Homo sapiens: one gene and its partner. The protein of the gene in region 1 purifies or fractionates together with the protein of each later gene. This does not show direct contact. Each region holds a gene or a part of one and is shown on either strand. Other genes may lie near its edges. The genes, in order: NUS1 and POTEI.

What was found.
Region 2: the proteins of NUS1 (region 1) and POTEI purify together in Homo sapiens (affinity purification with mass spectrometry; 2 studies listed by BioGRID and IntAct, with this or other methods). This does not show direct contact.

The regions. Positions count from the first base shown.
Region 1 is NC_000006.12:117,706,237-117,711,296, reverse strand, and holds the end of NUS1 (dehydrodolichyl diphosphate synthase complex subunit NUS1), read right to left. Parts: intron 4,373-5,060; coding exon 4,282-4,372; 3' UTR 570-4,281; downstream 1-569. UniProt on the Homo sapiens protein: With DHDDS, forms the dehydrodolichyl diphosphate synthase (DDS) complex, an essential component of the dolichol monophosphate (Dol-P) biosynthetic machinery.
Region 2 is NC_000002.12:130,485,177-130,492,477, reverse strand, and holds part of POTEI (POTE ankyrin domain family member I), read left to right. Parts: intron 1-1,737; coding exon 1,738-1,808; intron 1,809-3,198; coding exon 3,199-3,243; intron 3,244-4,279; coding exon 4,280-4,446; intron 4,447-7,301.

The DNA of each region.
Region 1 (5,060 bases):
TGAAGCTGAAGTGGGACGATCGCTTGAGACCGAATTCAAGCCTAGCCTGGGCAATACAGTGAGATCTCATCTCTAAAAAAAAGAAGAAAGAAATTTAAGGCACTTATTAAGTATAGCTGTTACTGATAAATTAACACTGAAAAATACACATTTATTAAAATAAAGCACTCATAGAACCAAATCCATAAGATATAGCAATTGAAATAAATCTTTATCGGAATGGAAACATTACTCTATACAAGGACAGAACTATGCTGTTAGCATTTATCCATATTCTGAATTTTTCTTTTTTTCCAGGATTGCCTTTTCCAAGCCAGATGTTTTTCTTGTCCTTGTAACAGCAACTTAAATTACTAATACTAATGAAGGGGACTATGAACAGTCAATAGCAGATATTGCTAATAGTTTGACCTCAGAGTACATTTTATTTGTTGCAATCATCTGGATACGTCATGCTAAAATTCACTTAACAGTCCTTGAATCACTAGATGAGGGAGAGATGAGCATAAAATTATTTGAAGAATTTGGGCCAACATTAAATATTAAGAATAACTGAATGTGGACTATAATTTTTTAAAACATTTTATTTTCATGTGCTATTGTAATTTATATCCAGACACAATAATCAAATACAAAAGAGAATGCAAGACTCTCAATTTCTAGTTTATAGTTTTTTAAAAAATCTCTTTATTAACTTGTTACAGTAGAATACATTTTTTAAAATATAGTACAAAAAATTCTCGGTGATCACCAAAAATGTAATCAATAAGGTTACATTCCTTTGTTTCTCTGAATCTTCTTTTTCCTATAATGAAAAGTGTATTTTTTAAACCTTAAGAAATTCTTTTTGCACTACCTTTTCCTATCCATTGCATCATAGTTTATGTCCCACCAGTTAGGATCTTGGAGAACTGCTCACATTAATCTTGTTTCCTGGGTTTTATTTCAAACTGTCCTGAACTTTATAGTAATTTTTGCTAAAGGAAGTTCCTAGTAAGCAGTTATTTGCCTTTGGTAAACTTAATTTTAGATGAAAACTATGCACAAAAAAACAATTGTCTTATGATTAGACCTTCAAGTTAGGAGGTGAATAGTCTATGCAGCATAAGACAAACCATAACTCTTACCTTTAAATTTTCTCATTTGACAAGAACTATCAAATTCCTTTTTAAAAGAGTACACATATACGTTTTTAATTTGGAAATTTCATATTCGGTAAAAATTCAAATTTTAATTACTGTGGAATTTTGACAACTCCAGCAATGGCAAAGCTGAATTTATTTCACTATTATCTATCAAAAAGCAAGTAACATTATAAGATTCCAAATGTTTAACCTGGTAAAAGTGAGAATATATTTCAATCAAGAGCATACCATCTAAAAAAAACACTATTGCTATCTAGTCATATGCATTTCTTATTACATTTTTGCAGCCCCTAAGTGTTCAGAACAAATGTAGCATTCACATAATACTATAGTCAATGAAAAGAGTATATTCTTTTATTGGTTTTTGTTCATACATGTTAAGTTTCAACTTTCAATAATAAAATTCAATAAATTTGATTCCTTAATCATAAAAACTGGCTTTACACATTATTTACATATTGTCAAAGTCCATACAAAACATCACAAGGATTTGATTGACTCTATGCATGGTACCATCACACAGGAGGAGGGAGCTAATCCAGTAACATACATTCAAAGATTAAATTGCAGATATGCACAGTGTATTTGGCACTGTTCATTAATATTATAACACCTTCCTCTCAAAGACAGGCATTCTTAAGCGTTAGTCACGATATACCAGAATTTGCTATTCACATTAAAACCACCTTTTAAACTTTATAACAGTAACCGATTATTATAGTTTTAAGAAACAAAACACAATGAGAACTGGGAATGGAATTCAAATCCTCCAACTTCTTGCTATGCTCCAAGCTGCCATCCATAAAACAGGTTTAATTCGGTAATTTTTCCATTGTGGGGAGTGTCAACAAGAAACAATTTAAAGACAGTATTTTCCAATACAAATAAAGACACATACTTTTGTTTAAAATTACCAGTTCTTCTTGGGAGTGCAAAGGGAGCCTTGATGATGTACAACTTGTGATGCTTTTGGCAGGAATTACAGAACAACCAATGCCATTCAAGTTGTGGAGATTGTACTAGCAGGTGAACTCATAAAGAGAAGGTTCTGGAATGACTACATCTGAAATCAGAATCCTAGTAGTTTGTAGTTTGCCTCTTCCTAGAACTTCAAGAGACTCAAATCATAGGCTACAGATGTACTTTCAAGTATATACTTATGAATGGAAGGAGAAAATAAAAGCACGAAAATGCAAATATTAAACCTTTACTGGCTTGGGCTATATTCCAGTAGGTAATTTATTTGACTAACTTAACTTTAACAACGATTAAATCCCTTCATTTTAATCAGGTCCATTAAATTTCATTCATTAAAGCTATACATACTCCAGAATGTTTATAAGACATTTATACCTATCATGTTTACAAAAGGCATAAATTCAGTCTTCAGCTGCACTACAAATGCCTCAATATAATATAATCACAGTATAAGGAATCAGAAATTCTCTGGTTAGATATGCTGTAGCTTCACACAAAACTCTCAGTAATAAATTAAAACAAAAAAAAAAAGTCGTACAACGTATAATGGATTATGCAGTGCAAAGTAATGTCACTGGACCAAAATTTAGTTTAATCATTTTTATTTCAAGTGTATTTAAAAAATCATAAATGGGGTTTCATAATCCAAAGTTGAAACATTTATTCTTCATAGCTTCAGAATTTAACAACCAATTGTAGACCATGCTTTCCAAATCCAGTCTTCTTTGCTATTTTTCAAAACTTCTGAGATCTAGTATTAAACTGCTCCATTCTAAATGTATAGTTTTAGATAAGTATTGTACACTTGTTGATAAGGGTTTTCTGAAAGCAGTCTATCAAATATAAAGAATGGTTTCTATCTAAGAATCAGCAGTGAGGGAAGAAATATTAAACACCTATCAAGAAATCAATTATTCATTTTAAAAATAACAGAACCAGTGCTGCTCTCTGTCATAAAAGAGAACATGTAAAATTTATTTTTATAGACTTTGGTAATATTTTATTCCCCCACAGAGGCCTTCAATCCTACTTAAAGATATTTTACACACAGTAACCATCAGGATTTACTGAGTAAAAATCTCAGGTATTAACCATGCCCCTAAAATGTGCTATTCCAAAGAGGAACAGGTTACTTTTGAGGAAAAAAGCTGCCTTGGTAACTTCCCTCAAATGTTTATTTTAAATAAAAATGGTTGATGGAAATATTTTTTAAAAGAACTTTGGGTATAATATGGCATACTGCCCATCAAACAAAAAAGGAAATAAAACTTTCTTTCCATTTATAATAAGTTTTCCACCTTTACTATCAAGATTACAACTTATTGACCTTTTATGCTTGCTTGGTTTTTTTGACTGCCTAATCCAATGTTTAAATTTTTAAGTCTGCATTTCAATGTAGTAGGAGTTATTTTTCAAATAATCTTCAGAACCCAGAATACAGAGCAACTCTCAGAATACCAGAGCAACACTCTCAAGTCATACTTTTGAACCCAGAATACCAGAATACCAGACTTCAGAACCCAGAATACCAGAGCAACACTCTCAAGTCATACTTTTGACTACAATTAAGAGATGAAAATGGACGGATATCTGAAGATAGGTATTCCCTCTGCTCTGAAGGTGAGCAAGATTTTAACATGTGAGCAACACAGAACTCCACTCCTCTGGAGCTCCTTTCAACTCAGAATGCTTCAGTTCAGTAAGTCAATATATTATTCTTAAAAATTAAAGTTTGGTCACTAAGAAGGACTGAACAAAAATTATTCCCCTCCCGCCAAACACAACCAGAACAGTTCTAATCAGGCCCTCTTCTCCCCACAAAAATAGGGAAGTAGCTGGGCTGAAGACTTTAAGTGTGACATTTCAGTTCCTAAAACATCACTGCTATTTGCTCAAAGTTGTAGGTCTATGTATTTCCTTCTCCAATACGTCCCCATTTATAAGTTTATTTCCATACATACAAACGTGCACATGTGTGCACGTGCACACGCACACACACACACTCACTCTCAAGTAAGACACTTTTTTGTGTTTGTTGATAAATTATGAGGATTATGAACTAGGTGTGTACAGGGTTTCATAGGTGCTTTGTAAACATCAGAGTCACTTGGTTCCTTTCCTCCACAAGCCTCAAATCAAATTATGCAACCAATGACCACTACTTTCCCAGACGCTGTTCACAGGCTGCATATTGACGAAGGGCAGAGAAAAAGTCCTCATAACTGATGTTTAGGTGGGAAGGCAAAGAGCTGAAAAGAAAACACGGGGGGAGAAAAGCAATTAGATATACACTGTAATGTAGGGGGGAACCAGAAGATAAGGACCAAAAAGAAGTTAAGAATAGAATACACCAAATTATCCTCCACCAGACAGCACCATGACAGGCACGGAAAATGTCTTAATCATAATATGTAGACTGAAAGGGTGGGGCCCTGACAGAACTGACTGGGAAATAGCAGAGAGCCTCTGAGGCACCGAGGGGTAGTGGCACTCACTGTTTATTGACGAGTGTTCATTGAAGATAGCTATTCCCTCTGCTCTGAGGGTAAATTATAAGCAGAATATGCCAAACAATTCTACTAAGATTGTTCAGCTCATTGTGGACAATGAGATGACAAGGACACACAATGTCATCATCAACTAAAAAATTAATATGCCTCTTTTTCCACAAGAAAAGCAACTAGTAATGAGAGATTCATAACTTGTTAAAGCGTAAGCTCAGATTAATGCAAAGCTAGAGATCTATGTATAAAGGATCTCATTTAAATCCATTAAAGAATTTCTCCTTGGTCAGAGTAAAGCCAATATTACTTAGTTTAGGAAAGCCATGCTTAATGTTGGGCAGAGCCACACAGCATCCAAACATGATGAAATATTGTAGCCATGTTGTGAGCAACCTAGAAATCAACACTTACCTCCACCATTTCCAATTACTCA
Region 2 (7,301 bases), on another chromosome or scaffold:
AGGCCTTTTCCCTGTGTGCCCTTTCTCTGGCATTACTGAGCTGCTGGCAATGCCCTACTCACTCATCCTTCTATTGTAGGCAAATATTTTCACTCTTTCAGGCCTCGCTCCCGCTCTTGCTGCTGTGTGGCATGCCGTCACCCTTTCCTGCCCTCTACCCCTTTTAATCTGGCTAGTCTCAATATTTAAGTCTCTGCTTGGGCATGTTTTCTAGAAAAGCCATCCCTGACATGCTTTATTTTAATTGTTTTTAAACCCTAATGCCTAGCATGTATTTAGCAGGACTCAATAAGAAATTTCTGAGTAAAATGTGAGTAAGATGATGTGCAAGACTGTCCTCTGCAGTCTTGGAGCAGACGGGACAGACATGTGGAGGAATAATGTAGAGTTCAGGTGGTAAAGATGCAGTAGAAAAATCAGTGAAGTACTAAGGCAGCCTCAAGGAAGGAGGTACCTGTTTATCTGGGGAAAGACATGCAGAATCAAGGAAGACGTTCTCATAGCATTGTTTTAAAAGATAAAAATAAGGATAAGTGTGGTGGCTCACACCTCTAATCCCAGCATTTTGGGAGGCTGGAGCAGGCAGATCACAAGGTCAAAAGATCAGGACCATCATGGCCAATGGTGAAACCCCGTCTCTACTAAAAACACGAAAATTAGCAGGGCATGATGGTGCATGCCTGTAATCCCAGCTTCTCCGGAGACTGAGACAGGAGAATCGCTTGAACCAGGGAGTGTCAGAGGTTGCAGTGAGCTGAGATTGCGCCACTGCACTCCAGCCTGGTGACAGAGCAAGACCCTGGCTCAAAAAAAAAAAAAGAAAGAAAAATGAAAATAAATATGTCTGAATCGTGGAGGGAAACATTTTAGATATTGGGAAGAGATTGTACACTAATAAAGGTGTCAGTAGTAATTTTTGAAATCATTTGTAAGGTACTATTGTTGCAGAAAACAGGAGGCAGGAGAGACCAAGTGGGTGAAACAGGAGGATTTCATTTAGGTTCGCACCAGCTCAGCGGATTTGCATCCGAAAGCTGAGCCCTGAACAAAGACAGGGCTTGGCTTATGTAGGCAAGCTTACAGAAGCAGAACAAAGGCAGTTAATCATATAGTGACAGTTTTGCAACCTCAGCGTAGCTTATGACCTTGCAGCTGCATTGAAGGACAACAGGAACTTGCAAATAATATGCATTTGTAAAAACAGCTCTGAGTGAATGCTGAGGGGAAGGGGAGACAGTAAAGGATTTTGTTTTCTTAACCTTGCTGTGGGATGTCTGGAGCCCATACCTGTGGGCTCTGGCTTCTCAGGCAGGGTCACCATGACCTTTCCTGGGCCCTGCTTGTTACTATCCTTAGAGTCAGACTAGCTAAGTGCGGGAAAACTTGTTTCTCTTTAAAACTAAATTTCCTTTTCTTTACATTTACTGCTTCACTATTAGGAAGTGGAGAACAACATACTGTGTTACCTTATATGTTTCTACTGTATTTTAAAGTTGTGTTTCTGGTGGTTTTGTTCATTTATGTTGGGTGGATGAATTTGTGAGTGAATGACATCAGGTGTCTCCCCAAGTGGTTTGTTGAAGTTTGGGAGAATTATTTCCTAAATAACTATTTCATGAAAAACTAAACACTCAATTTATGAAATAAAATGTTGTCTTAAATCTATTTTTATAAAGGCAATAGTTTTTAACTGTTCTAAGTGGTTCATTTTAACTGAATATATGGATTTCTCAACAGAACAAGACTTAAAGCTGACATCAGAGGAAGAGTCACAAAGGTTCAAAGGCAGTGAAAATAGCCAGCCAGAGGCATGGGAAATTTTAAATTTAAATTTTTGATTTAATGTTGTTTTCTTTGCTTTAATAATATTAGATAGTCCAAATGAAATTACCTTTCAGACTAGGTTTTGAGAATCAATAGATTTTTTAAAGAATTTTTTAATAGATTGTTAAAATTTATTTTAATAAATTCAGTAATCTCATTAACAGAAGAATGGATTCTAATTTAACATTTGATATTTAACTTAAAAAACATAACCACTATAAAATTTAAAATACTCTTATTTTATAATATTTTTATTTAAAATATTCTCATCTGCCTTTTTGATTAGCTTATAGCTAATCTTTCCTTTTGGAATAGAGGCAAAAACAAATTTCAGAACTTTGTTCTTTTATTTTTACAACACCCGAACATGATGAAGAAGGTACATCAATTATTGGATTATGTTATTAAGCAATAGAATTATGAACAATGTAACTCTGATGGTCCCTGAGCTGGATTCATGGTTAAGGAGTAATCATGGCCAGTGATTGAAAATCTGCAGTTTTATATTGTCAGTCACTGATACCAAGGTTAAAAATATATTCTGCCTTATGGTCTCTCATTGACCTCAGCGTTTCTGTTCAGGGAGGGAACCAGGTCATAAAAGCAACACAGCTGCCTATTACAAGAATCATATCTTGCAGAATGGAACCTTTGGTGTTAGTGCACAAACACAATAACATTCTAATTTATTTCAGTTGCAGAAAATTAGTACATATTATTAAAAAAATCTTTATCCACTGTAATTAGTACACATTAGAATATATTAGAACTGGACTTAAGCAGATAATCTGGATACATAACACTATCATATGACAGTATATAATCTCAATTAAAATTTGAGAAATTGCATCTCTTTCTGTTTGGTGTTGATTTCGGCTCCTAATAATTTAAATGGTGCCTACAATCCAGTTAGGAATCTTTTAGAAAAGCACTTCAGTGCACTGTAGGGGCTCACTAGTTAGGGTTTCATGAGGTAAACTCTTTTCAAGTGAGGAAGATTTTGGAACACTACAAATCATCTGCTGATTCATTTTTGGTAGATTTAACACATAACAAGTTTAGTCCAAACAAATGGTGACCAAGTTAAGTTTGCTGGTTCACGTTTTTTTTCTTCGTTGGGCTAAGGTGAATTATTTTTCACATGTTAGTCAGAAGCCAGTAATGTGGCAGTAGCTAAACATAGATTAAAAAGTTAATTCTTAATTTTAATTATTATTTATTTAACAGTTAAATTTTAATTTTAATTATTTTCTAATTTTTCATCGTCCATACTTCATTAGTTAAGAATAAAATTTTTTTAAAACATGCGCTCCAAAAGAGGAGACATCACAGAAACACAACAAGCAAATTAACCTTCTGTTTTTGCCTCTGCAGAAAATGTCTCAAGAACCAGAAATAAATAAGGATGGTGATAGAGAGGTATACCTTCATATTCAAATGTTTCTGTTGAATTAGATTTTTACATTATGTTGTTTAACAAAATGTAGTAAGTGTAGGCATACATGATCCTATCATGTAAGTAGCATAAATCATGAGTGAAAAAGTTAATATTTAACTCAGAAAGAATTCTGTACTTTGAGTTTTCAAGAGATACAAAGCCTAGAGATATTCTTTGATTATTATGGAACAATCCTGAATGGTGCCATAAAATGCTAGGTAATGCCACTTTAGGAGCTTTGGACCAATCATTTTATCTTTCTTGGTTTTAGTCTGATTATCAATAGATAATGTGGCTAAAGAAGATAGCTTCTTATTCTGTGTATCTTCCAGCTAGAAAATTGTATGGCTATTCAATGTGAAATTTGGGGAGCATCTCATTTTCTGGAATTCCATGCTTGCACGTCAGCAGTTTCACTCTGCTTCTTGTGTTGTGGCAAACTTTGGCTCCCATTTTCAGTGAGCACCATCATGTTTTTGATATCCCAGCAACCAAATGAAAAAAGAATGCTCAAAGGCAGTGGGGTAGAAGAATATCTTAGCGCAGAAAAGGGCAAACTTCCTTTCTGTTCCTGAAGCCGCACAGTGTGTCATCCTCTAAATCTGACTGTTTAATGTAAAATCTAGGTGGTAAAGACAGAAGACACATTTTGCATCTTTGTCTTTTTATTTGCGTGTTCCCATGAGTCAAATGGGGTAAATACATACATAAGATTCTGAAGAGTGATTGAGAATAAAAGCATAAAATGAAGGAGGGCCCTTTTTGAATTTTGGAAAATTCTGTTTCATTCATTGAAACAGAAATGAAGCAAACTTTACAAAAATTTCTGTGATATATTAATGATATGATAATTACATCTTAAAGTTATATGGTAATATTTCTATATATATGATCAAATTTAAGTGTGAAATATTTTTAATGACTAAAATAATGACAAACTGAGTCAATTGATAGAATCAATTAAAAAGGTTCTTTTTATTCAATAAAGTGATAACTATCCTTAATATCCCACTCAAGGTTGAAGAAGAAATGAAGAAGCATGAAAGTAATAATGTGGGATTACTAGAAAACCTGAGTAATGGTGTCACTGCTGGCAATGGTGATGATGGATTAATTCCTCAAAGGAAGAGCAGAACACCTGAAAATCAGCAATTTCCTGACAACGAAAGTGAAGAGTATCACAGGTAAGCCTATGGCAACATTGAACAGGAGATAACTATGTGCTGTCAAACTAACCCTAGTTTGGGCTAATATTCATGATGAACAAATTTTATAGTTTTACTAGGATATTCAGCCTTGCCCGTTAATCAGAAAAATGAAAATCAGCGAACAATGAGTTACCATTTTTCCAGGCATTAATTTATTTGAAAAATAACCAGTATTGGCAAATGTGAGGGAAAAGGCATTTTCTTTTCTTTTTAGTGAACTTTTCTTTTAGTTTCAGGGGTACATGTGCAGGGTTATTATATAGGTAAAGTGTATCATGGAGATTTGGACTGCAGATTATTTCATCAGCCACATAATAAGCAAAACACCAAAAGTTAGTTTTTTGGTCGTCTCCCTCCCGTGACGCTCCACCTTCAAGTAGACCCTGGTGCCTGTTATTCTCCTCTTTGTGTCCATGAGTTCTCATTATTTAGTTCCCACTAATGAGTAAGAATATGTGGCATTTGATCTTCTGTTCCTGCATTAGTTTGCTTAGGATAATGGCCTCCAGCTCCATCTGTGTTGCTGCAAAAGAAATGGTTTCATTGTAAAAGACATTTCATACACTGCTGGTAAATACATTTTGAACATTAATTTAGTAGCATATTCACAAACACATGTATAACAATAAGGATATATAATATATGTAAAGGATATTTGTGTAGATGTTACATATATACTTATGTATAAGGACATTTATTACAGCATTATTATATCAAAAAGATGGATCCTTATCAATAGGAAATTATCATTATCAAAAGTAAATCATTACCAATAGGAAATAGCTCAATTTTCATACCCAGAAATTAATGTAGTATGCAACCATTTTTTACAAGTGAGGTTAGATCTAGAGTATACTGATTATTTCACAATTAAAGTGTATTTAAAGCATCAGTGATGACATCTTAAGAGTTCTTGTTAAAATTCTTGTAATATTTCCTGTGTTGCAAATGGAAGCTACATGCTATATTGATGCTGTACCTTGTTAGCAACAAGATTGCTAGTTATTAAATTTTTATGTCAGTGCCTGAGTGCTGAAATATTGGACCCTCAATCTGAATATTGCCAAGGGATTGTACATGGGGATCTGTATTTAATATAAACGTTTCAGTATATTGGGTAAAACTTTTATTAAAATGTATCAAAGGATCTTTCATCTGCTAAACCAGGAGTTGGCCAGCTTTTTCTGCAAAGAGCCAGTTAGTAAATATTTTAGGCTTTGTGGACTATATAAATTAATTTATTTTTGAGACAGGGTCTCACTCTGTTTCCCAGGCTGGAGTGCAGTTGTGTGATCATGGCTCACTGCAGTCTTGACTTTCTGAGCTCTAGTGATCCTCCCACCTCAGCCTCTCTACTAGTTGGGACCATAGGTGTGCAACATCACACCCAGCTAATTGACACTGTGGACTGTAAAGTGAATAAGCATGGCTGTGTTCCAAAATACTTGACTTACAAAAACAGGCAGTGGGCTGGATTTGGCCCAAGGTGCTAGTTTGCTGACCCTTGTGCTAAAAGGAAGGTGCTGCAAGTGAAGTGACTCTTATTTGTAAAAGTGCCCTGCGTGTGTGAAATTATCCTTCCTTTGAGAAAAGGATATATTTCAGTATTCACCTCACCATATTTTTCCACAGTGACTTCATATAATTTTAAAAATTTCATTTATAAAATAAGATTATTGTCTGCATTTCTCCCACTTTATTCCTGTTAATAGAACCCAGTATTTTGCTGTGATCAATTACTTTGTATATTTGATGAGTATCAGTTGTCCTAGAATTGGCTGATTTTATCAAGCAAGAAATACTCTCCTTGAAACTTTTAGTATTTCTTGGTCTTTATGCATAAGCATGAATAAAATGATAATCAGCTTATGTGTAATCTAGAAATGTTCAAGGCGACTTTTAGTTCTATAGTTTTAAGAATTTAACACCTCAGTCTGGCATTTTTAATGCCACATGTGTATAATTTTTATAACCTTTAAAATATATTATTGTTATATAAAATTTGAAAACTACACCTGTTATATAAAACTTGAAACTATTTGTCTATTACTTTTCCATGACTGTGGAAGAAAATTACAACATTCTCAGTCATGACTCCTAAGCATGATGTCCTTAAAAGAACTGTCCACACTCACGAACTCAAATTTTCTTTTCATTCACTCTTAATCTCACACCGGCGTCTTCAATTTCAGCAGTCCTCCAACATTGTTTTTCCTCAAGATTATCACAATTTTTTTTCTGTAAATTATGCATTTTTTCTTACACCTCATTTTATTTAATCTGTCAGCAATATTTGAGCCAGTGGAGGGCGTCTCCTCCCTAACGGCGTCTTCACTTGGCTTTCAGGACCTCACTCCCTCAAGCTTTTCCTCCTGCATTTCTAGTCCATTCATCATGGTCTGTTTTGCTTGCTCCTCCTCATCTTTCTCCTTTTGGACATTGTTGTTTCCCAGGGCTCAGTCCTCAATCTTCTTTCTCCTGACTTTTTCTTTTTCTTTTTTTGAGACGGAGTTTGACTCTGTCCCCCAGGCTGGAGTTCAGTGGTGTGATCTCAGCTCACTACAACTTCTGCCTCTTGGGTTTAAGTGATTCTCCTGCCTCAGCCTCCTGAGTAGCTGGCATTACAGGTGTGTGCCACCATGCCTGGCTAATTTTTGTATTTTTAGTAGAGACAGCATTTCCCCATGTTGGCCAGCCTGGTCTCAAACTCCTGATCTCAGGTGATCTGTCTGCCTTGGCCTCACAAAGTGTTGGGATTACAGGTGTGAGCCACTGCACCCGGCCCCTCGTGACTTTTTCTATTGTGTATATGCTAGTGATTTCCAAATGTA